Linked DNA regions of Homo sapiens: regions 1, 3 and 4 are each linked to region 2. The links come from fine-mapping of genetic effects on gene expression. A gene starts in region 2. Each other region holds a variant in brackets. All regions are shown on one strand. Distances are from middle to middle.

Region 1 (8,098 bases), 72 kb before region 2:
TGCTTAAAGCCTATTATGAATCAGCCAACACTGGGGAGAGACGCACTGGCTGCATCCTCACCGGACGGGTCATCCTGGCTGCTAAGACCTAGACCCACCCGGGCACGTGGACACTCTCTGGAGTCTTTTCACCCGTGGGATCATGACACTTGCCCAGCTTCAACCAGCACCAGGTGCCCATGCCATCCCCAAGCCTCTGCGACCTCTCAGCACAGGGTGGCCGAGAGCCCCACAGTCACATGCTGGCCTAGCAGAAGTGAGGGGTCCCCTGTTTGCACAGTGCATCCAGGAGGAACTTCGGTCCCCAGCCTTGAAGCTGGGACCCCTTTTGCAAAAGCAGCATGCTCTCAGCCACGGCTGCTCACCACCCAGAGGGGAGGGCCCAGCGGGCATCAGGACCCCGCACCGAGGGTGGTGAGGCCTTTCTGCCACCTCTGCTGATAGGGTCCCAGGACCACGGCTTTCCGATGTGCCTCCCACTGTCCAGTCTATGCGCCAGTCTCCACAGCCATCAGCAGGCCCCACGAAGGGCATCTAGCCCCTCTTATCTTGCTGGGATGGACAGTAAGAAAGTAAAACAGCACCAGCAAAGCCCAGCCAGGCTCCGACTCAACCAGCCACCCAGACATTGGCTGTGTGGGGGACTAGACCGCCAGGGCCCTCCAGCAATGAACTGCGGTCACCTTGGGCTGGAGAAGTAGCTATGGTGCACTTCGCCCTAGCTGGGATGCCCAGGAGGGCCACCTGTGCCACCGTGCTGCTTCTGAAGGTTGTGACATGGGAAGAGTTCTATCCCCAGGTGCAGACATGGAGGTCAGCAATCACCACTCACCAATGAGGGGACCCCAAGTGCTGTCACAGGTGCATCCACAAGGCTTGTGGCACACTCATGGAGGGTGGCCCCAGGGGAACACTGCTGCACCAGTGCCGGATGACTGTGGGTGAGGAGGGACACAGACTCATGGACCCTGGGGCTCTGCCTCCACAAAACGGGCTTTTCTAACAAGAGGGTGGAATTCACATGAAGGAAGCTGGCTGGTTCTGTGGGCAGCAGTGACAATGACCCCAGATCCATTTCCCGCTGTCCCCCTGCCAAGTTCCTGCAGGTGCAGGAGCCCGGGATGCATGGCAGTGACAATAGCATTTGTGCAGGCAGGGCAGGGGCGTGCTAGCCCAGGCCAAGTCTGAGGCCTGTCACTGACATGGGATGGAGCCTGTGCCCACCAGCAGCCTGGCTCCTGGGCATCTAGGCCTGTTCAAAACCTGTAACACGGAAGCCAACAGAAATCCACAGCCAGAGGGAGCTGCGAGAGGACGGTGGCTGAGTGGGTGGGGCCAGGCCAGTTTCCCTCCTGCTCAGCCACCCCCAAGATGCTTCCTCACCCTACTCTGGGGCAGCTGAAGAAGGCAGCTGTGGCCAGGCCCATGGCTCCCTCCTGGACAGCTGCCAGAGGAAGCACGAAGACCCACACTGCCCATCCTCCATGCCACAGACAGAGTCCAAACCCTCAGCCTGAACCACAAAGGCAGAGGATGGCCTTGTGCGGGAGGTTCCTGAGGACGCAAACTCAGCTTCACAGCCCCGGAACACAGAGCCTGCTGTCGGAGTATCTAACAGGGATGGGGAGGAGCCTCAACTTTGGTTTTATCATAAATTACCTCCAGGCTTCAAGAGCAGACATGCCTGCCGGCAGGTATGGAGACAGCCCTTCCTGGATGAAACCATTCATGTCATCCACAGAACTCAGAGCTAGGAGGAGAAAAACTCACGGCCCGGAATAATTACTCCCGCAGGGAGCGTCTTTCGCACCAGCAGGTGATAGGTCTGGATGAGGATTTTCTAAAAACCGGCACCAAACCTCACAGCATAATCACTACTGCCTGCCTGTTCTGGGAGCCAAACCTCAATAACTGCTCCTGCGGGGCTGCTCCTCACTAGATGCGCCCAGGACTTGGAGCCACGCCTTCTCACGGGCAGAACCAGACAGGACACAGCCACCTCCGAGGTGGGCGTCTGGTCCACCTGCCCAGCTAAACACCCTCCCATCTACCACGGGCTCCTTCCGGCATGGAAGAACAGGAAAGGCTCCTTTAGAGTGGGGGACCAGCTCCAGAGGCCTGGAGGCACCCACAGGAGTGAAGCTGGCCAGGTAGTGGCATGCAAAACAGAAAAAAAAGTCTTTTTTTTTCCCCAGAGCTCTCCTATTTTTCTTGAAATACATGACCCTTTCGACTATCTTTTTTTTCTCTTTTGATAGAGATGCTGGTATGAGAAGGCTTTCTCATTTATGAAAGAACCAACAGCATGAAAGCCATGAAAAGAGTCGGCTTCAGTGCTCGGGGAGGTGACGGGGAGCGGTGGGGCCTGTGGCGTGCACCCTGAACGAAAGCTATGTAGCAAGCACCACGCTGCTGCTCTGTGGAAATTCCAGCCCACGGTTACCAGCTACTCTGATTTTCAGGAAAAGCCAAAAAAATCTGATTTTTCAAATTTGGTTGACTTCAATGAACCAAAATAAAGTGTTAAAATACCTATTGCCTGGGCCAAACGGAAACTGCGTGTGTACTGGATGTGGCCCAGAGGCCACCAGTATATAAACTCTGGCCTTTCTCTTGCTAGAAAATTCTTCCTGGAGAATGAGAGGTGGGGACCCAGGGTTTCCCCACACTCCCCAACCAAGACCCTGACGGGACAGAGGCCCCCAGAGGCTGCAGTCCACTCTCACAGGGGCCTCGGGGGAAGGCAGGCAGCAAATGGGGGTGTGGCCAAAGCCAACTCCAGGTAGCTGGCCCACTGTAGAGAAGACATCTTCCATGTCCACCGAGGTGACTCGGTACTGTCTGGACCACCTGGTGCAACTCATAGCCCCCTCCTCAGCTCCTCTGGGGTCGCCCATCTTGCACAGTGAACCTACAAGCAACCTAAACCGTTCCTCCCCCTTTCTTCTGGGCCTGAGCAATTTCAGCAGAGCCCCGCATGGTGGGGTCAATCAGACAGCTCTTGGCCAGCTGTGCAGAAAGAGCCAGAGAGGTCTCCTGGGTGAAAAATGAGAGGAAACCTAAAAAGATCCACCAGCCCATGTTTTCTCAGGATCCATGAGGAGAGCTCACCGGAGAAGCCTGCGCCAAAACAGGAAGGGACCAAGCCACAAAATGCACACAAGAAAACAGCAGCAGAACGAGTGTGCAGGGTCACAGCAGGAGAATGGGAGACAGGCTTGAGTTTCTCACTGGTGCGCAAGTGGACATCATGAGAGGAAGCTAACAGCCCCGGATCACATCCAGGAGACCTAGTACGTGAGGAGGAGGAATTTCAAAGATGACCCTGAGATGCAGAAAGCTTTCACTGCTCAGATGAAAGAAGTCGGTCATAGACTATCGCAGGTGCTCACAGGGACCACCCCAG[GCGGTGTC/G]CCAATGTGCATGGCTCCGATCCCAGCGGGTGCCACGTTACCTTCTGAAACTGATAAGGAAGCCACAGAGAAACCAGGGAATGAAATCTGTCCGGGGTGACATGATCAATAATTATATCACAGGTCTCAGGTAGCAGGACCCAAGGGGATGAATGCTTGCCTCTGGGAGTGACCAGGGAGGTAACAGACAGGAAGCAGAGCATGTGATGCCCCCGCTTGGGTGCAGGAGTGGCCACTGCCACTGGCCTGTCCACTGTGTGCAGACCAGCCTTGCTGGTGGCCAAGCTGCCTCTGTCTCCGCAGATCTGTCACATGCACCACCTGGTCTCTGTGTTAGGTGTGACTGCTTCTTCTTGACTTTTTATCAGTCTAGGTCAGAACACACCCGATGTGAACTTTATGGCCTGAGTTGCTCGTCCCTCCAGACCCCCCGTGCTGCCTACTGGCTGAAGAACTTGGAGGCTAAGCAAGCCCCGGCTTGTGCCCCTTCCCAAGGAGCCTGCCTTCTCCTGGTCCTCCCAGACAGCTGGCAGGATTCTAAGCCCTGAAGTGCAGCCCCTGCCCAGAAAGGCAGTGAGACAGATCCTCAGGAAATACTGTTACTTCCAAGAATCAATAGTCCTATAAGCATCCAGGGCAAGAAAATGAAAAGTTCCCTGGAAAGAAGGAGGAATATGATTTGCTAAAGATCTCTGGCAACAAAGGAGGGAATGGTTTTATGGAACAAAGAGTCAATACCCACTGAAGCCACCATTCACGCAGGAGACAACAAAAGAACCCTCCAACAAGCAAGGCACTGAAAGTACTGAATCAAAACTTAAAGCACTCACACGAGCAAAGGGAAAACATGGTACAAAATTGAGGTCCACATTGGATTGAGTGAGACAGTGCTCACTAAATAACCGTTGGTAAAATGATGGTAAGACAATGCAAATGTTGAAAATAAAGGAAAAAGAAGTTATATAATAAAAAACTAGAAGGTAGGGGAAAGGGAGATTATAAAGTAAAACTGAGGCAGGAGGCGGGACTTGACTCTGGAGGCGGGGCTCGGACACCAGACCAAATGGAGAACTAGCCAAAACAGGTCCCAGGTAAAAGCAGCTTTCCATCAGACACGCCCACCAGTGCGCCATGTCAGTTTACCATTGTCATGGCAACACCAGGGAGTTACCACCCCTTTCCATAGCAATGACTTGATGAACCAAAAGTTACTAACCCCTCCCTAAAAATGTCTGCATAAACTGCCCCTTACTCTGCATGTAATTAAAAGTGGGTATAAATATGACTGCAAAACCGCCCTGAGCTGCGGCTCTCAGCACACTGCCTGTAGGTAGCCCTGCTCTGCAGGGGTAGTCACGGAGCTGTCACAATGCCTGAACTGTAACACCGCTGCTTTAATAAAGCTGTTTCTTCCTACCCTACTACTGGCTCACCCTTGAATTCTTTCCTGGGTGAAGCCAAGAACCCTCGTGGGATAAGCCCCACTTTAGGGCTTGCCTGCCTTGCATCAAAACTATGCTAAGTTTCTAATTTTTTAAGGAAAATTTTCTAGTTTTTTAAGGAAAATTAGAAACTTAAAATTGTTAAATTGTTAAAATTAGAAAATTAAAATTGTTTAACTTTTGAACATAAGTAGAAAACAGAAATACAGGTCTTTTTTTCTTGATTTAAAGGTGATTCTACATTTAACATGGCATACATATAAAAGTGAGCAAAGGAAATTTCACCAACCTTCCAAAGATAGAAAAACTTTTTTAAAGCCACAAAGGAAAAAACAGAAACCAGAAAACACAAAATAAGGCTGTAGAAAAGAGAACAGATGCTGATTATCACTGTGAATTCAAACAGCTCTCCTAACACGGGGAGGCTCTCCATTTGAACAATGAGTATGCTGCACCTTATAAACAACCTATTTTAAAAAGTTAAAAATACAGGGATAAGCAAAGATATGCCAGGAAAATGTAACAACAACAACAAACATAGCAACACCAGTGTCAGGCAAAGTCAGATTCAAGACATAGATTAAATAGGTTAAAAGGGGTTTCTTGAAAGCTATAAAAAGCAAAATATATAATAAAGACATAACAATCATCAACTTTTATGCCTCAAACAATTTATCATGGAAATGAGTAAGACAAAATCTATCATGAATCACAAAGAATTATAAAACCATCTCTCTAAATCTTAGAGCAAATATACAAAAATAGGGGAGGGGGCAGAGGACTGGAATTAGATAATAAACCTGATTCATGTACACCAAAGTATATATTCTAAAGATAAAAACTAAACACTTTCCAGTATTCCATAAAATACTGACCAAAATATTTTTAAATAAGCCACGAAGAAAAACTTCAAAATTAAAAACCAAAAAGATTCACACCAGCTGCATTCTCTAGCTCCAATGGTGACAGAACTAGCAGCTAAAAACCAAAAGGTCACCAAGAAAAATTCAACCACATCTACTGGGAAATGAAAAGAAATACACTAGGTTAGTTCTTAGGTTCAAAAACAAATCACTCTAGACATACCAGGATATAGCTAAGGCAGTATTCAAAAATAAACTAGCCAAAATCTATTTATTACTAAAGAGGAAAAAATAAAAAATAAACTAAGATTCAACTAAACAAGTTAAAAGACAGATGCGTCAAAACAAGGTTCAGGAAGAGAGGAGAAAGGAATTAATAATAAAACTGGAAATCAATGAGTTTGACCAACAGTAGAACTGAAAAATAAATTTAAGAGCTGATTTTATGAAAAGGCCAATAAAGAAGATAAAACTCTAGCAATTATAATCCATAGAGAAAAAACACAAGTTACATTAGGAATGAGAAAGAAAAAACAGCTACAGATATAAAGGAGATATTTTAAAAACATAAGATTTTAAAAATATATGAGAATAAAATTGGTTACTTGGTTACAATGTAAAATCTTTGATGAAAACTAAGACTTTATAGGAAAACATACTTACTGACTCTAAAAGTGATGAATTTGGACTAAAACAATCCCATAGGAAAATCTGAAAAGTTACCAAAGAAATCTTCCCCAGAGAAACAACAGGGTCTGAGAGATTCAAAGGACTTCATGCCTTCAAGAAACAGCCAAGCCCTATGCTTTCCAAGTTGTTTCAGAAAACAGAAAAACATGGGGGTGCTTCCCAAAACATGATCTCAAAAACCTTGGTCTCAAAATATGGCTAAGAGAGTTAAAGGAAAAAAATATATAGCTCAATTTCCTATTTTGAGCCTGTATAAAATGCTAGTGAAAAAATAACAACAATGGCCAGGCATGGTGGCTCACGCCTATAATCCCGGCACTTCGGGAGGCCGTGGCAGGAGGATCGCTTGAGTCCAGGAGTTGGAGAGGCAATATAATGAGATCCCAAGTCCACAGAAAAATAAAAAATTAGCCAGGCATGGTGGCACGTGCTTCTAGTCCCAGCTACTCCAGAGGCTGAGGGGGGAAGGTCACTTAAGACTGGGAGGTTGAGGTTGCAGTGAACTGTGATTGCACCACTGCCTTCCAGCCTGGGCAGTAGAGCAAAACACTGTCATAAAAAAATAAATAAATAAATAAATAAATAAAAAAGCAACAACAAGCACCATAAGGATGCTTAGTGGATGTCCATCTGCTCCATGTGTTATGCATACAGGCATGCCTCATCTTACCGTGCCTTGCTTTCTTTTTTTAGAAATTGAAGGTTTGTGGCAACCCTGCGTTTAGCAAGCCTACTGGTGCCATTTTTCCAACAGCATGTGTTCACTTTGTGTGTGTCAGCATTTTTTAGCAATAAAGTCTTTTTAAATTATGGCATGTACATTGATTTTTTGAGACATAATGTTATTGCACTCTTAAGAGACTACAGTATACTGCAAACATAACTTTTATATGCACTAGGAAACACGAAAATTTCCAATATTTGCTTTATTGCAGTAGTCTGGAGCTGAAGCCGCAATATCTCTGAGGTATACCTGTATATCAATTCATTGGATCCTCCTAATCCTCCTATGAAGTGCTATTATTTTTTTCCAGATGAGGACACTGAGGTAGTGTTATCAATGTGCCCAAGCTGGTAATCAGCAGAGCTGGGACCCAAACCAAGAACACTAGTCTCTGGGGACCATGCTCTACCCACTCTACTATACTGCCTCCTAAGTCGGCTTCTTAAAGTCCTGATAAACCACAATAAAGTAGTGTGTACTGGGATGCCTCACTGGCTCTGCACCAGGACGTCTGGTCATAAAATTCATCTAAGGTGCACCCAGCACCCAATCTTGGTTTCTAATACCATCCTCCAATAAAAGGAACCGGGCTCCTTAGTGAAATGGCTAACTCTGAGGTTGGAGCAGGGAACAGACAAGATGAGCCCGGTGCAACCCGCAATGCCAGAAAGGAAGGGAATGCTCCAAAACTAAAATGACGGGGTGCATCAGAAAGACACAGGAGTCAAACGAAAGAGCCCTCGATGCCCAAAGCTGGAAGGATTTGAGCATCACAGAATACTGGATTATAAAGTATAAAATAAATATCCATGGGTCTATACAAGTTTTTTAAAAAAGAGGCCAGGCGCAGTGGCTCACACCTGTAATCCCAGCACTTTGGGAGGCTGAGGTGGGAGGATCACTTGAGGGCAAGAGTTTGAGACCAGCCTGGCCAACATGGCAAAACCCTGTCTCTACTAAAAATAC
Region 2 (8,098 bases):
GAACCACTTGAACCCGGGAGGCGGAGGTTGCAGTGAGCCGAGATCGCGCCATTGCACTCCAGTGTGAGACTCCCTCTCAAAAAAAAAAAAAAAATGAAATGTGGAGCCACTTCTAGACAGGGTCACACCGCTAAGTTCCCAGTAGGAGAGGCCAGCCAAGGACCAGCCACCTCCTCCCCTCAGCCTCCAGCGTGGGGCCAGGCACCAGACAGATGCTCAGGCAGCCCACTGGGCACCAGACCGTAAGCGCCAGGCTGGAGAGGGTTGCCACGGCGGAACAGGACCTCGAGGCAACTGGCCAGCAACCTCCACCTTGCACCTCTGTCTCCTGGGGCGGATAGGGGTGCCAAGCATACACAGAAACCAAGAGACAGCTGTGTGGAGTCAGGACCTGGGGAAGAGCCAGGGAAGGCACAGGGATACTCAGTGGCCAGCCTGCCTCCCATAGGCCCACCCGTCCCTAGCCCCCAGTCGGCCTGAGTCTTCTGCTCCTGGAGCACAAGGTTCACATTGTGGGGTTGGGCTCTTGACCCAGAATGTGAATTCTGCAGAAGACTCTCCAGAAGAATGCTGACTCCAGTGTAACCTACGGCTCAACAGGGGTACACGTCCAGGGCAGTTCACCTTTGCCTCTTTTTGGCTCTGCAACAGCTCCTGGGAGCCACTCAGTTAAAGAATTAAGGCTATTTCTTCATCCTACCCCTCGGAATTCTGTCCCCATTCCCCACCATGACTCCTTCCCTCAATCACTGGGAGTCTCCCAGGAAAGCAGGATGGGATGCTGGACTAATTTAGAGTAAATCCCCTTTTCATTCATTTCACCAAGCACCAATCACAGGGCAGCCACAGACTGGCCCTGCGGATACAAAAGAACCCCAGGGGTTCTAAGGATGCTAGGAGAGGCATGAAGGGAAGCAACTCCTAACCCACAATGGGCAGACGTGTAAAAGTGTACTGCTGGGGAGAAAACTGAGTGTTCTGGAGTTCTGAGCACTAAACCTTTACCCGAGGGCTGGGAAAGGCTTCTGGGAAAGGGAACCATCTGAGCTGGGCCTGCAAATACGTGAAGAATCATATAGAGGACAAGAACATTCCAGGGCTAGTTGGGTGAGTGTGCAAGGGAAGAAGGGAATGGAAAAAGCCATGTGGGAGAGCAGATGCAGACAGGTCTGGCTGGAGCTGACAGATTTCAAATTATCAATCCTGTCTGTGGAAAGCTCAAAGCATTGCTTAAGGAGACAGCAGCAGTGCCACCAAGTGCCATGGGATAGGGACCCCTCTCCATGAGGGGATGGGAGGTGACCTCAGCGCACTCTGTCTCAACCTGAAGCCTACACCCAGGCTAGCAAGAGAAAGTAGGATCAACCCTGAAACACCCCACATCTTAAAAAGAGAGATGCATTCAGAGTAGATTCTTGAGTTTCAAATTAAATCTGAGATGCTAGTTTAGGGCTTCCCCTACTCCCCAAATCATATGGGGCACACCCCAGTCACCTGGAACTCTCATGGACCCCCTCTGTCCCAGGCTCTGGTAGGATTCTACAGACAACCAAACCCAACTCCCAGTGAGCCCACGGCAATGGCCGTGACTTGCTGGCATCATGCCTCGTTATGCCTGACTCTATGATCTGTTCTGTGAGTGTGGCTAGGAGCTGAGCTTTGCGGGAAACACACTTAATCATTCTGCTCTAAAGGAAGCCACTGGGGTCAACCTCAGGCTCAAAGTACATGGGAAAGCCCCATACCAGACTGGGATGGCTCTTCCCAAGGAGACTGCCAGGCTCTGGAAGCTCCCACACCCTCTCAATAGCAGACCTCTCTAAGACCTGCCACTCTGTTTTGCCTCCCTCACCCACCCTGTGTGGTGGCCCAGAGAATCGGTTCTGCTAGAAAAGCTCTCATTCTGGGGCCAGGCGTGGTGGCTCACACCTGTAATCCTAGCACTTTGGGAGGCGGAGGCGGGTGGATCACCTGAGGTCAGGAGTTCGAGACCAGTCTGGCCAACATGGTGAAACCCCATCTCCACTAAAAATACAAAAAATTAGCTGAGTGTGGTGGCACACGCCTGTAATTCCAGCTACTCAGGAGGCTGAGGCAGAAGACTCGCTTGAACCTGGGAGGTGGAGGTTGCAGTGAGCCATCATGCCATTGCACTCCAGACTGGGCAACAAGAGCAAAACTACGTCTCAAAAAAAAAAAAAGAAAGAGAAAAAGAAAAGCTCTCATTCCAGGATCCAGTCAGTTCCAGACTTGCTCCCGTCCAGACATCAGCTTGGTTCCTTCAGGAGAGCAGCAGGTCTCAGGCCAGCTTGGAATCCTGAACCCAAATGCAACCCCTGGCACTCCCTGTGAGCACCGAGCCAGCCTAACCAGAGAGACAGCACACCCACAGCTGGGCACCAGCCTGCTCAGTCTACCCTTTAAAAGGGTCACAGGCTGGATTCAAGGATCTGACCCTGAGTTCCTTGACACCCATCTGAGACTTTGTCTGCACTGTTCTCTACCTGAAGGGAGTCTCATTGCTGAAGGACTAGCACAAAAGTCACCCAGGAAGTGAAGCCTTCCCACACTTTATCTGAGCTCAGAGTCCATGCCCCTCCTTTGCAAATGGCAAGACCACACGGCAAGCAGATGGATGACAGAGTCCCATGTGTCCATCTGTTCCAGTGGCCTGTGAGTACCTTAAGGGAAGACCCACTGCTATTCCTGGAATATAGCAGGTGCCCACAAAATATTTGATTTGTATGCTCTAAGCTCCCTCAACCTTGGGGGCCAACTTAGAACCCACTTTCTGTTGCCATTTTCCCTGTATCTTAAAAAGAGAGATGCATTCAGTCCACTAGATCCCCCATTCTGACCTCAGTTTCCAACCTGGCATCTGGAATACTGCTCCCTCCTACACCATGCCCCCTCTACCCCACTGTACCACCAGACCCACACCTTCTCCCATTGAACTCACACATAGCTCAGGGGAGCCTAATCTTTAAAAAACAGATCAAGCAGCTTGTAACAAAACCCTTCCAGCCCATCAGGGCAAAGTCTGAAGCCGCCACCTGGAACACCACACCTTCCAACCAGCCCCAGGCATGCACCCCTGTCCCCAGAACACTCTGAACTCTCAACCTTTGTCCCTTACCCTGGGCTCAGATGCTCCCTATCTGGGAGATTCCGCCCAACGCTCTGGTGAACCCATCTGTCCACCCTTCCTCCCACTACGACCACTCAGCTTTCTTTCATTTAGCCCAGTATGGAGCACCTACTGTGTGCAAGGCACCGGGCTACTGAGAAGCAGGTAACATACCTGCCCTTGCACTCTAAATGCAGAGAAGATAAAGAACAAGTACAAACAATGCTCTATATAGTTTATCAGGTGATGATGAGGGCACAAAAAGTGGGATAGATGGTTAGAGAAGGATTCCCTGAGGGGGTGACATTTGGCCCCTGAAAGAAATGGGGAAGTGCCCTGCTGGGAAAAGGGAATTCCAAGTCCGTCTCGAATACCGCCTCCTCCGGGAAGCGCCCGGGTCCCTGGGGTCCTCGCAACGCCGCCCTCCTACCCGGGGGTCTTGGCAGCGAACATGCGTGTCGACCCCAGCCCCCACCGCAGCCGCACACGGTGGGGCCGCCAGACGCGGGCAGGTGGGGCCGGAGCCAGCCAGGAGGGTGGAGAGGAGCTGCGGCCCCCGCGCTGACCCTGACTCGGAGCGTGCAGCTCGCCGACCGGCGCTGGGACTCCGGGCCAACGGGAAGAGGCGCCTACCCGCGGCATTCAGCGACCCCGGCTGACGCTCTCACCCGCGGTCCGGCCGGGACACCCATGCCCCTCTCCACGCCAGCGGGAAAGAGCGAGGGAGGCGCAGCACTCACCCGGTGGCCGCCGCCATGTTCGCCCGGCACCGGCGTCACGTGAAGTGCGGCGTCAGCTGAGCCCCTCCGGGTGCCAATGCATGGGGCGGGGTAAGGGCGGGGCAGGGGGCGGGGCATGGAGTCCTTGACCCACCTCCTCCAGAGCCAAATTCCACGGGACGGGAAGGGGCGGTACCTGGGGAAGGGCGGAGCCCCGATGGGGCGGGGCTCCCGGAGATTGGGGGCCCAAGAGCTCGGCCAGGATAAATGAGCGGGCTGCCGGCTGCAGACAGTAGGTCGGGTTAGCGGGCAGCATCTGCAGCCTTTTCGTGGTGGGAGGGAGGTCCTGAAGCAGAGGACATCTTGATTCTGGTTCAGTCCCCGATCTGGCGTACCAGCCCACCCGGGAGAAGAACACATAGGAATAAAGAAACCACGTGGGAGGAGAGGAGGGAGACTGACCCAGGCTAGGGTCGGGGCAGAGGTGGCGATTTTTGTTTAAGAAGGGAAAGGGCTTGAGCAAAGGCCGTGGGGCAACTGGAGGACTCTAAATGTGCAGCGTCCAGGAGAATGTGCGCGAGAGAGGGGCAGCCTAAGGGAAGCAAGGGCCAGACCCTGCGGGGCCTCCACTGTGGGGCCTATGAGTTAAGTCTGGTAGGATCTTTTCTAGGTTTCCTGGGCTGCAGAATGGAGAAGCTGGAGGAAGGGAAGCCAGGGAGGAGGGCAGGCGAGAAGTGGGCACAGCCGAGAAGGGTTTAGGAGGGAGAGTCTGCCAGAAGGCTTACTCCTCTGCCCCACTGGGCACTGGTACTGGGTGCAGAGTCCTGCAGAGAAGGTGTAGGGACCCTGCAGCAGACGCTGCCCTCCCTACTGCCAACAGAGTCAGGGCATTACAAGCACGGCCCAAATGCGTTGCACATGTGAGCTCATAGAAACCTCACCACAGCCCTATGAGGTCGAGACTATCTTTAAGTCTATTATACAGATGAGGAAACTGAGGCCAGAGAGTGCTCACACAGAGGCTGAGCTCATGAAGCCATACCCTGAGGAGTGACCTCACTGCCCCTGTGAAGGAAGGGGGCCCCACACTGTTGGGGGAGGGCGTCCCTGGCGCCAAGGGTGTACAGATGTGTGTGGTGTACAGATGTGTGTGGACAGGTGGATGGGTGGCCCAGGATAGGCGTGTGGGGCTCCTGACCCCACCCTGCAGCTGTCCCACAGCTGGAAGTGGCTTCTGATCAAAGGTTGTGGGTTGGGGGATGCTTCTTGTTTCTTTATCGAAACAAGGATGTGGGTCACCATGGCCAGGCTGGTGGGAGCCAGGGGCTATGACTGGAGAAGCAGCTTCTGTTTGTCCCCATGAAGCAGGGAGGAGAATAGGCCCCTTAAATAGGAGCAAGGGAGCCAGCCATAAGCAGGGTAGTGAAGGGCACGTGGCACAGTTACCTGGAAGCCCAGTACCATCCCTGCTGTCCTCATCTGTCAGGAGAGAGCTAATGGGGCCACCTCACAGGGCTGCTAGAGGGTTTTACACTCAAACCTGCAGGCACAGCCAGAGACCAAAGCTGCCAGGAGGAATGTGGCCCCTCCAGACAGCCCCTCCCACCTCCCGGTCCCAGATAAGGAAAACGAGAGCTAATGGAAGAGGGGGGGCCTCATCCCTTCTACCCCTTCCCACAACACATGGACAATTTGCAGGGGTCCCTGACCTCCAGGCAAGGTCCAAGAGGAGCTCTCTCCACCCTCTTGCCAGTTTCCAGGAAGAAGAACAGAGGTAAGGATTCACACCCCACTGCCTGGCCTAGGGGCCCCTGAGAACTTCTAACACCCCTAGTTAAGCAGTAGGTCCGCCTTCAGCTTAAGAAACTCAACTCCCTAGTAAGTGGCGCTTTAAAAAATACATAATAACAAAGGGTGAGCAGAATGAGCTTTCCATGCGCCTTCAAGGAAGGAAAACATACCCCCCAGCTCATTCATTGCACCTGCCTCCCACCATTTCTTTTGACATAAAATATGTCAAAATTAAGCCAGCTGCCAGCTCTGAGTGCTTACTAATATGAAAAAGAAGTCAATATCCCAAACACAAAATAATGGAAGGAAGGCACCCACCAACTGAGTGGAGCTCCCTTGTTTGTGGACAGTAATATGGAGGCACTGCCCATGACCCCTGCCCACCCAGGTCCCCTGCCCTCTCCCCTCCCCATCAGGGGCTCCGGCAGGGCTGCCCCTCACCCCTCACCCCTCCCCATCAGAGGCTGTGGCAGGGGCTCCAGAAGCCGCCCAGAATATGGGAGAAGACCATTTAGTTACTTATGCAGGGCAGACCCAGGACGTTGCTGGAGCCAGGAGGCAATTGGGGGAAGATTGATTTTAGAGAGTCGAAGTGGGAGTGTGTAAATCAGCCAAGGCAGCGCGCCAGGCAGCACTCTCATGCGGCATTGCCTCCGAGGTCACAGGCCCTTGTGGCCGAAACAGTCTCCTCTCGTCAAGCCCTGCAGGTGGCTGGTAGATGTCTGCACTCGGTCAGCCTGGTAGCCCGGTAGCCAGCATAGCATTATTCTCCAGAAGGGCCCCCCCAACTCCCGTCAGGCCTTGCAAAAGAAGCTTCACCCTGGGAAGACACCTCTTGTGTCCCGGGACACTGTGTCCAGCCAGGTTTCCCTCCTCCACCCATTCCCCACAATCTAGCCCCCACTCTTGCAACTCCGTGGACGCTGCTGACAGCTGGCTGCCTGGAGACGGCAGGCCCAGATGTGGCGGCCTGCTAGGCTCTGACTCATGAGCCACCCTTGGGCCATGAAGGGGAGGTCCCCGGGAAGAGCCCTGTCCATCTTCTGCTGTGGATTGAGGGCACTGGTCTACCAGAGGCTCTGTGGGACTGCACTGGAGGTAGCCTGGATGCTGGTTCTGCCCTGCACCACCCAGTTGTTGCCCACAGTGCCACTCCAGGACTGGCCATGCTGTGAGGGCCAGGGATCCAGACCCTGCCCTTGCCTAGAGGATCTTTGGTCTGGGGACAGAGGTAGAGGAGCCCTCCACACTGTCCCTGGGGAGTCCACCATCTGGGAGGGCCTCAGAACGGGGCTTCGAGGGTTCTGCTTTTGGCTAATGGGGAGATCCTGGGGGATTCTGAGCTGCAAGCTGCCGATCCAAACCCCTCTCTCCAGCAGGAGCTCAGGAGGATTAGCAGAGAGAACTGAAAAGAGCCAATAAGAGCCAATAAAGCCACTGCACGGGGCCGCCAGCCTCAGATGGTCAAAGCCCTACACAAGATGGCATTTGGGTGTTTTGCGATTGTTTGCTTTTGCTGAGAATAGAAGACTGGATGCAGAAAGCCAGCACCAAATAAACAGAAGAGGAAGAATAGAGGGGACTGTGGGTGTGAGATAGGGGCAGGGTGGCATATGGCAACCCAGTGTCTTCCCAAGTGGGAAAGCAAGGAGCGTGATGGGTGTGGAATGCCCAGGAGACCGTCTCTCTATCCTGGTTCTGGCAGATCCCAGCCTTGGGCCTTTGCAGGGCCTGCAGAGGTAGCCACAGCTCTCCCACTCCAAAGGCCTGTGTGGCCTGCTCCTTCCTCCAGGCCTACACCCCAGCTGTCACCACCATCCATCAACCCCCCTCCTCACAGGAGCCCCCACATCACGTTCTACTCCTCCTCTCCTTTCTCCCCCAGCCCAGCCCACCTGGGCATCTATCTTCCTGTAGAAAAGAGGCAGGCAGAGCTGAGGGGCCTTCCCAAGGAAGCCCCCATCACCGCCTCAGATGAAGTGGTCCCTGCTGAATGCTTTGCTGGGGTCTACGAGGCAATTCAAGATGAGAAATGGAACGGTGGCTTCGGAAAAGCAAATCATTCCAACAGCACCTGAAAACATCGAAGGAAACAAGCTCTTTTTGTGTGTGTGGAAATGGGGAATATATTGTTTCTCACTGTTTCGAAGACTGTTTTCCCATCTTGAAATCACAAGCTGTTTTCTTCCAGAGAGACTTATAAATACATCCAATTATCGACATTCAATATAAGAAATAAAGTTCTGAAATGGTTTTCTTCAGCACATGCAGAGTGAGCCGACCAGGTTGGGCAGGTGATAATTACTTTTATTTCTTACGAGTGGGTATCACCGCGGAGTGGCTAGAAGCTTCACCTTTTATTGCCTTCACCTTTTATTACATTTCCCACGTTGTGCAGGGCTATTCATTGGTAATTTTATTATCCCATATCAAGATCTTGATTAAAAAAAAGGATGAAATT
Region 3 (8,098 bases), 110 kb before region 2:
TGGGCATCTCTGCCCCCTTTTCGTGTGACGGCCACTCCTCCAGGGCCTCGGCAGACAGGAAAGCTGCCCATGCCGCCAGCCCATGACAGCAGCAGCTTCTGGTCCCCAGAGCCAGCAATCCCTGGTGCACGCGGTGGGTGACGGGAGCAGCTGCGTCCTGTGGGCCTCCTGGGTGTCTGGAGGGAACTGGCATTGCCATTTTATGCATGACATGGACAGAGGCACGGCACCAGTGAGGGGCCCCGGGTCCCAGAAGAGCACTGTGGGGTGCCTCGTCCAGAGGTGGGTGAGACACAAGGACAGCTGCCAGGAAAGCACAGTGGGGTGAGGCCCGGGCGTCAGGGCAGTGGCCTTGGCAGGCGGGAGGGAGAGTCACACGCGCAGCACATGCTGTATTTTGCTTTTTTTGGTGACCAGTGTCTCATGATGTCTGGGAGCACCCAGGATGTCTGGACAAGTGCTGTTCAAACTGTGGGTCATGACATCAGCTGAGGAGGGTGCAGCCACGAAGCACAAACAAGAGACAAACCGAAAACGCGTGGGCAGGTGTCTGCTCATAACCAGGCCTGTCCATGTGTATGAGGACGGGTGAGAATGGAGAGCACGCTCCTAACTGGGATGGGATGGGACGGCCATGCCTGTGGGTCTGGACCCTCCTGAGGGCGTTCTGTGGCCCCAAGAGCATGTCTTTAAGACCGCAGAGTGCTCAGGGCAGGGCTGGCTGGTGACAACAAGTCTCCCTCGGAGGAAACAGCAAGGTGGTGGGGGAGAGCTGGGCTGGGACAGGCAGCAGAGAGCAGGCCTGGGGGCAACGCTCTACCCTGGAGCTCACCAAAGCATTGGGCCCCAGGTGGAGTGGGGCAAGGGGGTCCCCAGGAGCTTGTCACCCATGGGGTCCGCAGCGCGATGGTGGCAGACAGACTCAGGCTGAGTAGACAGCAGGAGTAGGCTGGCCGCATCCCAGGCTGCAGGGCCCATGTGAGGCCAAGGTGGCTGCTGAGGTCCTGGGTGAGCGGGCACCCCATGGCCTGCAGGGTCGAGGTCTCGCCATTATCTAGCCAGGGAAGGAGGGGAAGAGGGCACTGGTGGCTGCTGAGTGTGAGGGCTGGGACAGGTCTCTCCTCCTAGCCAGGCTGGCCACCCACCCCCCATGCCCAGGAGCAACACAAAAGACCAGGCCCAGCAGGGGTGAGGCCTGGCCCATCGTCCTGAGACAACACTGCCCTCTTCTGGCCAGTTCTGGAAGGACAGGCTTGCTGCCCACCAGCTGCATCCCGACTGGGACAACCAAGGCCTGGGGCATCCTGGGACACGTGCTCTAGAAACTCTGCGAGGGGCCACAGTAGATTAAGGCCCCCCTCCAACCCCCACCACCTGATCGGGAAGTGAGGGAGGCAGGAGGAGTGTCCCAGCTGCTTTCCCAACCAGAGCCCTCCACCTCTGCCCTGTGGGGTGAGCCTCTCCAGGACCTGGGGCGGCCTCAGGCCCGGAGTGCTGCAAGGGATGGTCCCTCTCTGGGCGCACTGCTTCCCAGAATCGTGGACCATGCGCCCCCTGCCCTAGCTGCGAAGCTTGCTGGCCTGCAGTGGCTCTGGTGCCCACAGCCCAGGCTGTTTGTGGAAGGAGGGGGCAGCACATGGGGGCTCAGAAGACGACCAGGAGAAGCAGGGGGATGAGTCCTGGCCACCTCTGTGCTCACACAAACCTGTTCGGGGCTGGAGTGAGTGGGGAGGGGTCTTCTGGGGCCTCCCACTTAGGAATGGCCTCCAGTGATCTCAGGCACCTCAATCTGTGTGAACATGTTGAAAGTGTTAATTAGCAAGTGTGCTGCGCTTTTGTAACCCTGTTCTTGAAGGTCTGCCTGAGGGGTTTAAAAAGGAAAACAAAAAAAGCAGCGAATGGCCCCTCTGGTACAGTGACTTGGAGATGGGGTTCATGGCGAACCCCAGGATCACAGCGGGAAAAGACTCTGAGAACAACAGCAAAACCCCCGGAGGCTTGACGGCTACAGGCCCCACATGGGGCCGCTTGGCTCTGAACCAGGCTGAGGGTGTATGCAGCCACCACAAAGTCCCGTCCCTCACCCCTGCGTGCATGCGAGTGGGTGTGGTGGCATCACACCCAGAGAAGCGGGAAGGGGCCCGGGGGTGGCTGGCTGGGGGTGAGGGACGGCCCTCAGGAAGTCTGTCTCAGTCCTTGGCTGACAAGCCTGACCTGAAGCAGGAACCAGGGTGTCTGGTTCATAGGCCCTCTTGGACCATGACTGTGGCCAACAGTGGACTCAGCCTAGCTCCAGGGAAGCTGCTGGAAGGGTAAGGACGGAGCAGTAGGAGGGGGGCCTAGCCAGCCCCAAACCCCGCTTGATGTACGCATCATGGAGGACACTTTTGGGTCGAAGACACGGAACAGGACAACCAGGGGACGGGAGCTGTCTGAGAATAAACCAGGCCTGGCCTGAGCTCTGCCTGTGGCTCCCACCTCCAGCCTGTGCTGCAGAACCAGCTGCTGGAAGTGGGCATCAGGGCCTGGCCTGCCCAGCTCGGTGAGGACACCGGGCCTGCTGCTCTTGCCCGAAGAGGGCCCACGCTGTGCCAGGTGGCCACTGCGAGAGAGGGAGGCAGGGGCTTACACTGTGATCATTGCAACGCAGCACAGCCTCGGTCAGTTCCCTGTGTGTGTATCCATGTGTGTGCGTGTTGGGGGAGTGCTCATATCTGGGACTGTGGAGAGAGGGATGGAAAAGGCTGGCCTCCTCTTAGTACCCCCCACCCTTCTGCAGTACAGCTGTATAATCTGGCTGCCCTGGACCAGCTCTGATTCCCCACAAAATCCCATTCCTAGAAGCTAAAATATCTCTGGGGTGTCTTCCCCCAGTCAAAGGACTAAAACCCAGAGCAGGCCATTGCAGCAGGCGCACTGCTCTGGGAGGCGCTCGGCTTCGGGGGAATTCTACGCTGGGCTCATGCTTTAGTTTCATACCTTAGGATGAAGCATCGTGGCTTTCATGTTGGGATAACAGACTGATTTATTATTTACCGAACGCAGTAGGCGCTCGGCAGATCAATTTCAATACAACAATGGACTATAAATGCCACCAGCAATCTGGCAGTAGCAGTAATCAACAAAACATGTTGTTCTAAATGCTGCATAATAAATTGACTACAATAAACTCATAATTACTCTACTGGCTACATTTCAAAGTTAGCACTAGAAAAATCAAATCACCAATTTGGACTTGGCATTAACATCCTCGGATCACTCCTGCCTCTACAGCTGCAGCTGGGAGATGCAGGTGCCATGTGCTGTCCCGGAGGGCCGAGGCCACAGCATCTGGGATTATGCCAGGACCCTCTCCGGGGCAGATAAAGAGGGTCATAAAGGAGCAGTCACTTCTTCTGGGGTGTGCTGAGCCCACAGAGGAGAAAAGCTCATGGCCACGTGGCTCTGGCACAGGGCTCTCCAGCCACCCAGAAGTGCCCCCTGGACTGTGGGGACCCACTGATGTGGCCTCTGCCGTGAGACTGGGTTCCCATGTCCTGTCCTCCAGGCCCAGCCAGAATGCGCTACAGGGTTAAAGAGCTTTAGAAAAGGTTTCAGGGCTGGGCACCGTGGCTCACATCTGTAATCCCAGCACTTTTGGGAGGCCGAGGCAAGAGGATCACTTAAGTCCAGGAATTCCAGACCAGCCTGGGCAACATGGTGAGACCCTGTCTTTTTAATATTAAAAATAAAAAAATTAGCTGGGCATGGTGGCTTGTACCTGTAGTCTCAGCTACTCGGGAGGCTGAGGTGGGAGGATCTCTTAAGCCTAGGAGTTTGAGGCTGCAGTGAGCTATGATTGTGCCACTGCACTCTAGCCTGGGAGACAGAGCAAGACCGTCTCTTAAAAAGTTTCAGGACACCAGGTGGTGTCTGGAGCCACTGGTGGGTCCACGGTGTGGGGGCAGGGCTGCCACCCCCTCTCCTGCTCTAGTCCCCTGCTGAGCCAAGTCTGAGTTTGCCAATTCTTTCCCCAAGTGCCTCTGGCCTCACACCTGGGCCTGGTGCCCTCCTTGTGTCTGAGTTCCTTGGCCCACACATGGGGTGAGGTGCCTACATCGCAGGATCAGGGCGAGGAGTGGGTGAGAAAATCCACAGAGACCCAGAAGAAGGGCCCAGTCACCTTGTGGCCCCAGGCATGTAGGAGGAAAGCTGAGCTCCGCTCTGACCCTCCCAGCCCCGAGCACGGTGGCTACGCAGGGGGGACTGGGGACTCGCCCACCATTTGTGGGGCTCACTGTGGTGCCAGAGTGAACCAGGATCCGTGGAGCCAGTGCTGTCGGGTAGGCCAGGGAGTCCACTAAGGCCCAGCGCGCAGTGGGTGGCGGTTCCACTGGCCTGCCTCCGCTTGCACCCTCAACCTGCCGTGTTCCTAACACAGCCCTACTGTGGCGGCATATGCTGGCCCCACCCAAGGTCTGAGCTGAGCTCCTGCCAGCATGGCCTGAGCTGGAACAGCTCATCAGCTATGGACCTGGGTGAGCGGGGAGCCCGGGCAGTCTCAGTAGGCCATGTGCCCAAGGGCAGGGAGGACCCCGAGACTGAGTGTGTTCCTGCAAATACTCGGCCCTGACAGCTCAACGCTCGGCAGCTCTCTGGGCAGCTGGTTGTCTGTCCATAGGTCTGGGCATGTGTGTTCCTGTCCTTCAGTGGGCATGGCTGGGGACTCTGGGGGGTGGGCTCCCACGACTACCTGCTGTAGGGTGAGGCGGGGTCCAGGCCGGTGAGCAGCCATCATGGGAACTCCCGCTGGAGGAGCTGGCACATTGGGGTGGCTCCTCGATGGGAAGGCGGAGGCAGCCCAGCTGG[G/A]CGCCACGCAGGCCTCAGAGGACATGCCATGCTGCTGGGGGGCAGAGGGCTCTGCAGGAGGCTTGTTCGGGTGCATCTGCCATAGAAGAAAGGGCACCAAAGAACTGGGAGGGACAAGGCACATCCTCTGCTAGTCAGTGACCACAGTGAAATGTCTGGAGGCCAAGACAGGGCCTGCGTGGCTGTGGCTGAGCCCCAGGGCTCCAGCACTGGGGTAGCTCTCAGGAGCTCTGCACTGCCTGGGCTGGCCCTGGCTGACATCTGACGTGCAGGGCACAGGCAAAGAACGCGGAGGGACTGAGCAGAGGCCAGGCTGCAAGTACTCACACACCTCCTCCCTGCCCCGGGGCAGCGGCCCAGCTGCTCTGCCCTGCACACCGAGGGGCTGTGGGTAGGACTGCAAGTCCTCCAATGAGAGAAAAGACTACCCGAGGGGCGGAGGCCGCAGGGCCTGCCCACATCTCCTTGTCGTGGCTTCTATGAAGAACTGTGAGCACGGCACATCGTGCTCAGGAAAGCCCTGCACGCAGCCACGGGTCAGCACTGCTGACTTGCTGAACGCAGGGCCGCAGAGGCCACGGGCTCCTGCAGCAGGAGGATGGCAGGTTTCAGAGCGTGGGAGGCTCCCTGCGGTCTTCCCAGCTCCAGACCAAGAGGCCTGCCCTCCTGGCACCAAGACAGAAAGATGCGAGCGTGGTGCCCCCTGAACGGAGAGGACAGCCTGGACAGAGGCTGGGGATGGTTCAGGCCCCCTCAGAGAGCCCACAATCCCATGGCCCACAGGAAACCATCGGGGGCCCCTCTCCTGCACCCTCTCTCTCAGTGCTCCCTGGGGGGTGCAGGCTTTTGGCCCTGGAGAAGGCACCACGCAGGCCGATAGCCTTGGCAGAGAAGTCTGGGCCAAGAAGCCCAGGGACTTGCTGTGGTCAGCCCTCTCAGGACAGGGACCCAGAGGCTTCTGGGCCATCTTGAAGTTGAGTCCAACCTTGGCCTGGCTGTTCACACACAGAGCCAGGGCCGCTGGCCCTACTTACCACATATCCCCATTCTGGATCGTTCGGTCGTTGGGAGCTCCGGCGTGTCCGTAGTGTAGCACGGCTGAGTTCTCACCACTGCAAAGAGCCGGGGGAGGGTGATCAAAGCCCATTCTTCTGCAGCAGGCTCTGAAGGAGGGGGTGGATGCTCGATCCCCTGCCCATGAGCAGCACTGTCCCCACCTCCAGCACAGGCCCAGGCGTGGCTGGACCAGGTCCACAGCCAGAGGTAAGGCCGGGGGACATGGTGGCCCTGTCACCCCGCAGTCACATGGCTGGCAACCAGCCTCAGTCTGCAGGCAGAGCCTCCTGGCTGAAGGCGTCGTTAGGCGGCTGCCCTCTGGGCTGGGATGTGGGCATCATGTGGAACACATGTAAAACTTAGCAATGGGCCGGGTGTGGTGGCTCACGCCTGTCATGCCAGCACTTTGGGAGGCCAAGAAAGGCAGATCACTTGAGCCCACAAGTTCGAGACCAGCCTGGGCAACATGGCGAAACCCTACCTCTACAGAAAATGCAAAAAAAATTAGCTGGGTTAGGTGGCTCACAGCTGTAATCCCAGTTACTCAGGAGGCTGAGCTAGGAGGATCACCTGAGCCTGGGAAGTGGAGACTGCAATGAGCTATGATCATGCCACCGCACTCCAGCCTGGGCAAAAGAGGGAGACCCTGTCTTTAAATTAAAAAAAGAGCAAAAAAGGGGAACAGCAGTTCCTGGGCCTGGAGAAGGGCCCTACGGAACCCCTCCTTTCCTGGTGGCCAAAGGGGAGAGGGCCTCTATGGAAAGGGCCCCGGCTGTCCTGGAGCTGCCCTGGCGTCCTGACCAGGCTGGAGAGAGAGGAAACCAAGAGGATCCTCGCTCCTCTGCCTGAGAAGGCTTCCCTAATGAGCGATGCCTTTAAGAAAAAAAGGACTTTTAAGTCTGTCCAAAGGGGGGAAGGAAACCCCCACCTGGGTGTAATATTTATGGCCCTGCTCAGGAGTCTTGGGAATCATAAAAGTAGAAATAATGGTTTTCTCTCCATCCACCAGAGAAGAACATTTCCAAGGACTGAGATTTCACATGTATTATTCATGTGCCGGGGACGTGCGCATTGGCAGAGCTGCCTGGCTCCATCCTGGCCGGGCAGGGGCCAGACCCGAGGGGCAGAGAGCAGGGAGACTGGCTGGGAGAGCGCAGGAGACGAGGGGGCCACGCCCACAGCCAGGACGCATGTGGGGGCAGACACACCCCAAGGGACACATGCCGCTGTGCATGGCCCACACAGCATGGCAATGATCCCATATCACTGTCATTTCTACCATGTGTGTGCCTCCAAGCACACCCAGCCAGGTGTTGATGGCACACACCCAAGCGCACACACCCACACAGAGCCCTGCCCCTCGGCACCATGTGCCACGAGCAGGCACACCAACAGTGACATGCACACCCACATACAGCAGCACTGGTCCCCACGCAGCCACACCCACATAGACACACCACCACCACTTTCTGCACTGACCCTTCCACACTCCACCCCTGCTGCACACAGAAGCTGCCCAGCCTGAGCTCACAGCCCGGTCCCCACATGCTGTGTGTGTGCCCGTGTGGAGGAGTGGCCTTCCTGTGCTTAGCTGCTGTGCTGACCAGCTGGGGACAGGAGGGAGGGGACGCCAAGCAGCCCCTCTGCAGTGGGCAGGCCATGCTCCCTCCTTCACCCAGTGCCAGGTCCTGCAGGCAGAGGCCACCTCAGCTCCGGGAGTCTTGGGAGGGAGGAGCGACTTCCAAGCTTGGGCCGGGCGCTGGTGTGGGCGTGTGAGTGAGCAAGTGTGGCTGAGCTGGGGGATGGTGGAGCCCCCCACTCACTAACTGCCCTACCTCCTCCCACTGGTCACCCCCAGGGGAGCCAGGGTGCCCCGCTTACCTGCCGCAGATGCAGGTGTAGGAGCTGTGGCGCATGCCGCCCCGGGAGTAGCAGTAGTGCTCGAAGAGGCTGCAGGGGGAGAGACGCGTCAGGGTTGGGGCACTAGAGCAGGCACACCCCACTCCACGAGCCCCATGAACCCCAAGGGAAGGCCCTCGGCCCATGGTCTCCCCTGCCGTGGCCCCACAATGGTCCAAACTCTCAGTGTGAGTCTGTGAGGCTTACAGCCTGGGGGTCAGTCATAGGCTGCAGAATCTCAGAGGCCAGTGTGGAGTGACAGAGAAGCTGGGGGCCCAGCAGGGCGCAGCCACCT
Region 4 (8,098 bases), 120 kb before region 2:
AGGGTGGCAGGGGTGGAGATGCCCAGACCTGCCCCCACCCCCCACACAGAGCAGGGATCCTCCTCAGAGCCCAGCTCCCCATCAGCCCAGCCTCCTAGGGGCTGAGGTGGGGGCGGCCGTCCCGGGGTCTGGGGTCTGGCGTGGGGGAGGCCGTCCCGGGGTCTGGGGTCTGGCGTCGGGGAGGCCGTCCCGGGGTCTGGGGTCTGGGGTCTGGCGTGGGGGAGGGCCCGGGGTCTGGGGTCTGGCGTGGGGGAGAGCCCGGGGTCTGGCGTGGGGGAGAGCCCGGGCAGACCTGGGGCAACTCTGGCTGCAGCTGCCCTGTATCTGGGGCAGCCCTGGGCACACACACCCCTGGCTGGCCCAGCCCGCACCCCTGGCTTTTCTGAGGGGCACAACATCCCGGAAAAGGACACCTGGATAACTGCAGCCCACTTGGCCGCTCCCCCGCCTCCGTGAGCCTCAGCTGCCGCTGGTCAAACAGCCCCACCTCCGTGAGCCTCAGCTGCCGCTGGTCAAACAAACAAACAGCCACAAGGCAGGCCCCGGGGGGTTGCTCTCAGAGCCTCTGTGTCACCTGGGGGCTGGAGGCAGCACCCCGGACAGTGGCATTGGCCACCATTCCTCCATCGCGCATGACCAGCCAGCCCTGGTTCCACACTTGACATTCACTTGTTCCTGGGGGTGTGCGCCAAGCCTGCCCAGCCTCTGCTGCTGCTCTTCTCTGAGAACCCAGCCCGGACAATCCTGGCCCACCTCGCCCTTCCTCTCTGCTGCTGCATCCTCCAGAGGCCAGACCACCCCAAGGCACACAGGCCGTTTTACCTCAGGCCCTTTGCTATGGCCTGTGCCAGGCCTTGACCTGTGATGCCTCATCCAAGGGGTCTCTGCATAAAAGCTGTCCCCTCTCAGAGGAGACCTTCCTGCCTTGCTGTCCCAGGCCTGGTGATTTCTCCTTGCACGGTCCATCCAGCCTGCAGCCGTCCCCTGGACGGATCTGCTCGTTTGCTTCTCATGTCTCACTCCGAGGGTGGGGGTCTCCCGAGGGCACCGCTGGGCCTGGCATAAAGTGAGTGCCCCTCAGGTCTCCCAACAGCCTGCAAAGTTGGCACATGGGGCTGGGAGGCCTCCTGTGAGTGGCTCGTGCCCCAAGCCCAGCTCAACTGCTTCCTCTCGGACGCGCCCTTCTCTGGTCACCAAAGGGGAGCCCCGGGAAGTGCAGCCAGCTTTCCAACCAGGCTAACTTCAGCAGTGGGCTACGTTCTTGGCCCAGCCTCCGCAGAGGGCGGGAATCAGGTATAAATCATGCTCTGCGGTGGCCCTTCCCGGGGGCAGGCCCGGCGCCGCCCAGATGTGCCGGCCCGGGGGTCCCCTTGGCGCCGCTGGTCTTCCTTGCCTGTGCACCCTCGGGGAAGGCCTTGCACACAGCTCTCTTGGCCGGGAGCAGGGAGTTTCTGCCTGTGTGTGGTTAGGGTTGTGACAGTGATTCAACCTCCAGCAACTTGGCCCCAGCCTCTGGCCCGGATGGTGGTTACGACACCCACCGCCTGGGCGGGGGCCCCTGGAGTGTGTGAGGGTCACTGTCCTTGCACTAGGCTGGCAGGGTGGGCACCAACTTGAGGGTTCCCTTGCTGGCCTGGGCCCACTCTCAGGCTCCTCCCACCCTGGCAGCCTGGAGACACCGTCAAGCTCTCTAGTCCAGGCTGGAAGGCACCCCCGGCCCCTAGCCAGCCTATACCCAGATGCCACACTGAGAATCACACAGCAGAAATTGGGCACCAGCTGCCCTGCGTGCCCCAACCCCCAGCAAGCACCAAACCTCATTCTGGCTTTCCCGAAGCACCCCTGCACCTGCCCCACCCCTCCTGGAGTCTGCCTGGCTCCCTCCTCCGCTGCACACCCCTTGGATGCCTGGGCCATCTCTTTAGAACGAACGGGGCAAACAGGGCCATTCCCGGCCCCGGACGAAGCCCAGGTTCTCAGCTTGGCCTGGTCTCCAGCCTCTCCCTCACCCACTCCTGGGTGGGGTGGCTGGACCAAGGCCACGGGTCCCAAGAACTGGCCCTCCCTACCTGCTGTTTCCTTAGCTGGGGCCACCTCCTCCAAGCCCGTTTTCCCAGATGTGCTCCCATTCCTCCTGTGGGCCTCTGTGGTGAGGCTCCTCCTCCAGGAAGCCCTCTCTGATTACCCCTTCCTGTACTTTGAGAATTCACGGAACACACAGCACAGCTGGGCCTGGTTATGACCTCTGGGCCTTGCAAGGGTGGTGCCCGTACTCTGCTCTGTGCCTGGCATGCTGCGGATGCTTGGTAAACGCCTGGAAGGAGAGGAGCCCCAGCTTCTCTCATGGCTCTCCTGCAGCCAGTGTTGTGCCCCATCCCCCACTCCTCTGTGTACTCAGACCCTAGAACGGGCAGGGTGGCCTCTAGGTTAGTGTCCCATCATGCGCCTCATGAAATGGCAGGGCTCAGAGGAACAAGCCCCGCTGCTCCTGCCACCCAGGCCCCAGGTGTGGCCAGCGTAGCCCCTGAGTGGTCTTCTGGGTCCACTTGGTCTCCTCAGGCAGCACCCGCTCCTGCTGGGCCTAGGGCCCAGGCCAGCTCCTTGGAGCCTCAAAGCATCCATCACAGCCCCGAGGCCTCCTACCCGGAGTGTGACAGCCCCAGGGGGCTCCCGGGCCTGACCGAGCTACAAAGGCAGCATCCTCAGAGCTGCCTCCAGACAAAGAGCGCACTTCATCTGTGGAACATGGCCCTCGGGATGGATGGGTGTGAGCCAGGCTCTAGGGGTGTAGGACAGCAGGCTCCGGCCGGGGTCCCAGGGCAGGCCCTGAGGGCTGGCTGAGCTGGCACGGGGCTGAGGACCTCCAGCTCACCCCACCCTGCACGGGACGTGAGTAGAAGAACCCCATCTGCTGCCAGAAATTCTGGGGACCCACTCACCCTGCGTGAGAGCAGGGTGCTGTGTTGGCCCAGGCTGCTCCTCGAGTCTCCTCCCCCACACCCTGGCAGAGTGCCCCGAGGAGTAAGAAGAGGCCAAGGAACTGGCTCACCATTGCGGCCGGCAGGAGGGGTGGACATGGTGCCCACACTGAAGACAGTCCTCCCCGTCCTGGCACCTGCCGCAGAGGGTATCTATGACTGGGGTGGCACATGGCCGCCATGCCTATCTGCCTGAGCCCTGCACTCCACGCCGTCTCGGAGGATGAGGACTGAC[A/C]GGAAGTCTAGCTGCTGGGCCCCTGCCCCTGGCGCTGGCTGGGAGGGGAGCAAAGCTGGCAGAGGTGCCCCCTGACCACGGGGCCACAGGAGACACATGCCAGGTGGGCCGGGGCAGGTGCTGCTGGGCCCCTCTCCCAGCCACCTGGTCATCCCGCGCCTCAGTGCCCCTCTCTCGCCCCGTCAGGACTGTTTTGGAGGTGGGGACACTTCCTGCCACTTCTTTCCCCTCCTCTGACCTCACATTGGCAGCACCCCCGTCACTCACAAGTGGCCAGGACCCTGAGGGCAGGGACAGAGCCAGGAGCGGGGGAACGAAACACAAAAGAGCTCATGAATCGTGGGCCACCATTGCTGTTCCAGGTTGATAGGAGCTGGGCCCCCAGTGACAGGGGCACAGGAGGCTCCTGGGTGAGCACAGGAAAGAGTAGAGAAAGGCGGGGAGGCCAGGGAGGGTGGGGGGGTGAGGAGAGAGGGAGCTGGGTCGGGGCTGGGAGGCGAGGCTACAGGAGGCTCTGGGGCTTGCAGGCGGAGGGCATGGGGCCCTCAGTGCTGGGGTCCTCTGGAGCTCCAGGGTGGCTGCAGGGACTGAGCCCGCGGGACAGGGACAGCTGTGCTGCTTCTAGGAACAGCCTTCCTGCTGTGGCTGTGCCAATGCAGACCCTGACTCAGGGCCACCCTGCCGGGCTCGCCCATCCGTCCCAGCAGCGCCTCCCCCCATTCCCCTCACCATGCATGCAGGGGTCTGCATGGGGTGGGCAGCCTGCCCCAACACAGGAGCCGCGCTGAGCTTGGATCCCACCCAACCTCCCGTGCATGGCACTCCCCGAGGTCCTGCAGCTGCTGGGCCTGCCCTGCCACCCGCCTGTGGACTCCCAGCCGCCAGGGTAGGGTCTCCGTCTGAGCGAGCGCAGCCTCCTTCCTCGCCGACTGTGAATGACAGTGAGGAATGCTCCCCCACCAGCCCTAGGATCAGGGGCCAAGGCCTGCATTCCTCAACCCCCCAGGGTCCTGACCATTCTTTCCTGCCTCTCCTTTGGGCTTAGCTATGGGGTTTCCTGCTTTATTTACTCTCCCTGGAAGGTCACAGGATGCAGTCGGGCAGTCTCGGTGGGGTGTTTGTCTTGGCCCAGGAATTGAACCCACGAACCCAGGGCATTTCCGCTGGGACAAGGCAGGGGGCTGACCTGGCCACGGCCTCCTCGATGCTACGGGAGGCGACCTGCCCCATCCGGAGGGCAGCTCTGTGGGCCCAGGGCCTGCCCCACGGGCCTTCACTGTGTGTGATCCAGATGGAGTCCGACTCTGCCCTTGGGGGACACCAATGCCACACAGCTCAGTGTGGGTGGTAGGTGTGGGGGGGCTGCTGGGGGGCTGCTCCATTCCCTTACACAGGGATCCTCCAGACCCCAGGCTGGGTCTGGGCAGCAAAGCCCAGTGGTGGGTGGGAGCGGGGCTGGGGGAGGACCTGCCTCCCATGGTCTGAGATGAGCCTAGCTGGATTTGGCCTTGTGGCCCCAGACACCCCTGCCAGGCCTGAGGCCTGTGCCTGCCCCAAGAGTCAGCATGAACCAGGCAGCACCACGGGATGGGAGACCCAGCTCAGGCCTTTCTCAGTGCCACATGGGGCCTGGGGACTTGCCCCGAGGTCTGGCCACTTTCTGGACAGAATTGGGGCTGCTGAGTTGGGCCAGGGAGCTGGCCAGGATGCCAGCTGTGGAGATGCCACCCAGGTCCTGCCCAGGCCGCAGCAGGCTTTCCTGCAGGTGAGGCCAGCCAGGGCTGGGCCATCCCTGGTTTCAGCACAGGAGACTGAGGGGTAAGACAATGGCTTTCCCACCGAACACCCCCCAGGCCTTGGCCCCTATGCTGCGTCAATCCGCCGCCCTGCTCCCCGTGGCCTGGTGCTACCTCTGGCACCCTGATGGGCCCGGCACTGCCTGCTGACCAAGCTGAGCTCCTCAGCCTGATGCTTGGGTGTACAGGGTTGCTGGGCTTGGTGGGCCCCCGCCCCTCACAGGCTGCAAAGCTCTGCTTCGCCGCTGGGAGGCTCAGCCCCTTGCAGCCTGGGGCTCTGACTTTCTGGACATCTGGATTTCACGACTGCCCGTGGATGTCTGACACTACCACTTGATGTGATGGTGACACAGTTCGCAATGACACAGCCCACCTTGGCACAGCTACAGAGTGGGAGGCCAGCCCTGTACGTGAAGGGTGTCTGAGAGACTCTGGCCCACCTGAGAGGCTGTGCCCGGCGGAGGGCTCTCCGTGGAGGGTACAGGAGCTGGGCTCACAGATACTAGGTGAATACACCACAGGCCACGCTCACCTGCCAAATCCTCCTGCTGGATCTGAAACACTGATCATTCATTCGAGTGACTAGTGGTATTTAAAACTGAGCAAGAAATTCTCATCCCCAGAATGAAGGAAGGAGAAGGAGTGGCGCCCCTGGGCGACTGCTTCGTGGAGGCTGGATTGGATTTGACAGCTAACGGGGGATGCTTCCCATGGCTGAAGAGTCAGAAAGAATAAGAAGGGACGCAGCAAGCAAACTGTCCCGTCCCTTCCTGCACCTCCTTTATGGTTTTCACAGGCGCACGGGAATTCACGCTCTCACTCCCTCTTCCTTTTACCCACAAGGGCCCGCTGGCCATACCCTCTGGCGCTCTTCTGTCCTCACCCACCCATCTGCCTGGAGACACCTGTATATTCATACTCAGGGGTGGCAGCTCCTTTTTGTTTGTTTTTTGAGACAGGGTCTCACTCCATCACCCAGGCTGGAGTGCAGTGGTGTGATCTTGGCTCACTGCAACCTCCGCCTCCTAGGTTCAAGCGATTCGATTCTCGTGCCTTGGCCTCCCGAGTAGCTGGGATTACAGGCATGAACCATCACGCCCAGCTAATTTGTGTAATTTTAGTAGAGACAGGGTTTCTCCATGTTGCCCATGCTGGTCTTCAACTCCTGACCTCAAGTGATCCGCCCGCCTCCCAAGTGCTGGGATTATAAGTGTGAGCCACAGAGCCCGGCCTGCTGCTTTTTAAGCAAAGCAATTCCGCAGAAAATGCTGTTTTCCTCGGCAGCTGCTAAACCAGGTGAGTCCGATCAGCGCTGTCACCCCATCACAAGCTTATTGACTTTTGGATTTTCTGTCCTGTCTTCCTTTTGGGGCACATCTGGGGTCCCCCTGCTTGCACTCATGCGTTTGTCAAGCTCTGTTCCTGTTGGATGCGTGAAGGTGTGGGGCTGGGGCCTGGCACTGCCCCCAGCGTCCCTCCGCGGCTCCTCAGCCTCTGGTGGGGGCTCTGGAGGCTGGACTGGGCACCATCTGCAAAGGCCTGCCCACAGTCTGCCTCCTCTGAAAGCGACGGTGGCTGAGGGCCCCTCTGAAGCACACTTGGGCCGGCGATCGAGGCTGCAACTCATCCCAGCAACGGGCTGTGGGGCCGCAGGGACTGCTCAGTCGACCGCCGAGCCATCAAGTTCTGAGGCCGCATTCTGGAGGCTCCAGATCTTTCTTTCTTCTTTTTTCCTTGAACACTGAGGGCGCACTTGGCAGCTGCCAGCTCTCTGTGGGTCCTTAACAGAGGGCACTCCATGTCTAACTAGATGCCACGGTCCAGAGCTGGCCAGGCCCGCTCTGAAGTGGACTCTGCCTTGGGAGAGCAGGGGTCTATCCTTCGCCTGTTTGGGGCTTAAGTAAGGTACCTGGCCAGCAGGCGGCAGAGCTGGGGCTGGGCTCGGGGCACTCTGGGTCTGGGGCCTGCATCCTGGACTCTGAAGCCTTGCGCTACTGGGCTATCCCCTCTGCCCGCGGTAAGCCCACCTGGCTCCTGGAGGACGCCTGAGCTCCCCTACACAGGGGGCTGCCTTGGGCCTGCCTGTCTCTCTGGAGGTCTGTATAGCTGTGGGTGAGAGGCAGTGGGCGAGGGTGGGGGCAAGCTGGGGGGGCTGGACTATGACCTGGGCATGGCCAACACGAGGTGATCTCTGACCTCGACCCAGATGGAGGGACTCCAGGCTGCAGAAGGTGGCTGGGGCCTGTGTGCTGAGGGCGGGCCCTGGCCAGACGATCCAGCTGTGAGTACAGGGCCATTGTCCTGTGCCACTGCAGCCCTGGCCCCAGCCCAGACCTGATTTTCCACCTCTGTGAATTTGTGGCAGCCCCAAATGACCGAATTGGCTGGAGACTGTTCTGTTGCTTATAACCAAAGATGCAGAACCTGCGTGCCTTGGGGGGCCAGCTGTGCCTGGGCCGGTGTGGGCAGGGAAAGCCCCTCTGCGCTGCAGGCTGGACCCTGGCAGCTGCCGAACAGATCTCAGTCAGAGTCGTGGGAGCCATGTGCCTGTAGAGGGCCAGGCCTAGGGGTTGGCCAGCACATGGTGATCCCATAGGAACCTGCCCAGGCTCTGGTGAATCCAAGGATTACGGCAGGGGTGCTGTGTTGAAGCCCTGGAAGGCTTGAAGCAAGAACATGAGAAGACCACATCCCTCAATTCTCTCCTCTGGGCAAAGGTGACAAGCCAGGACCTCCCATCACTGCTGGGAAATGGTTTCTATTGTTGCAGGGCAGAGAGCTGGGGTTCGATCCTGTGGGTGCTAGACTCCACCCCTGCCAGGGCTATGGAGGACCCAGGGGTCACTCGGCAGGAGGCTGGCTGAGCGGGATGGGGACAGCGGGAGGTGCCCAGGGGGAACTCCTGAAAGCTGGCCTTGTTGGGAGGATGCTGGCTCCCCTCCAGGGGACCTCCTCTGCCTGCCCTGACAGACATCAACGGCGCGCGGTGGGAGGTCAAGAGGTACCAGTGGGGCCTGTGCAGGCTGCCTGGGGTTGGGAGGGCTGAGGGCAGGACAGGTTGGCCTACGCTGGCCGCTGGGAGAGAGAAA

Evidence for each region.
Region 1: its variant is fine-mapped to the expression of PEPD in whole blood (INTERVAL, PIP above 0.99).
Region 3: its variant is fine-mapped to the expression of PEPD in whole blood (TOPMed, PIP above 0.99).
Region 4: its variant is fine-mapped to the expression of PEPD in skeletal muscle (GTEx, PIP above 0.99).

Annotation. Positions count from the first base shown.
Region 1 is chr19:33,446,350-33,454,447 of GRCh38, forward strand. All of the region lies in intron 9 of PEPD (peptidase D), which reads right to left. Among named protein-coding and RNA genes, the nearest start is that of PEPD, 71 kb to the right of the region's middle. The variant GCGGTGTC/G (reference allele first, on the strand shown) is at 3,407.
Region 2 is chr19:33,517,877-33,525,974 of GRCh38, forward strand. PEPD (peptidase D) reads right to left here and starts at 3,915. Exons shown (of 15, transcript NM_000285.4): 1 at 3,868-3,915. The coding sequence starts at 3,884. LOC105372370 (a long non-coding RNA gene) reads left to right here and starts at 4,058. Exons shown (of 3, transcript XR_935918.3): 1 at 4,058-4,138; 2 at 5,545-5,620; 3 at 7,523-7,901. RefSeq lists enhancers at 3,216-4,179, 4,180-5,142 and a silencer at 3,925-4,124.
Region 3 is chr19:33,405,790-33,413,887 of GRCh38, forward strand. PEPD (peptidase D) reads right to left here. Exons shown (of 15, transcript NM_000285.4): 10 at 7,786-7,854; 11 at 5,883-5,960. LOC124904692 (a long non-coding RNA gene) reads left to right here. Exons shown (of 2, transcript XR_007067229.1): 2 at 1-3,176. Among named protein-coding and RNA genes, the nearest start is that of CEBPG, 36 kb to the left of the region's middle. RefSeq lists an enhancer at 911-1,468. The variant G/A (reference allele first, on the strand shown) is at 4,849.
Region 4 is chr19:33,393,041-33,401,138 of GRCh38, forward strand. The region is part of intron 12 of PEPD (peptidase D); the gene reads right to left. Among named protein-coding and RNA genes, the nearest start is that of CEBPG, 23 kb to the left of the region's middle. RefSeq lists enhancers at 1-235, 2,223-3,052, 3,053-3,882. The variant A/C (reference allele first, on the strand shown) is at 3,214.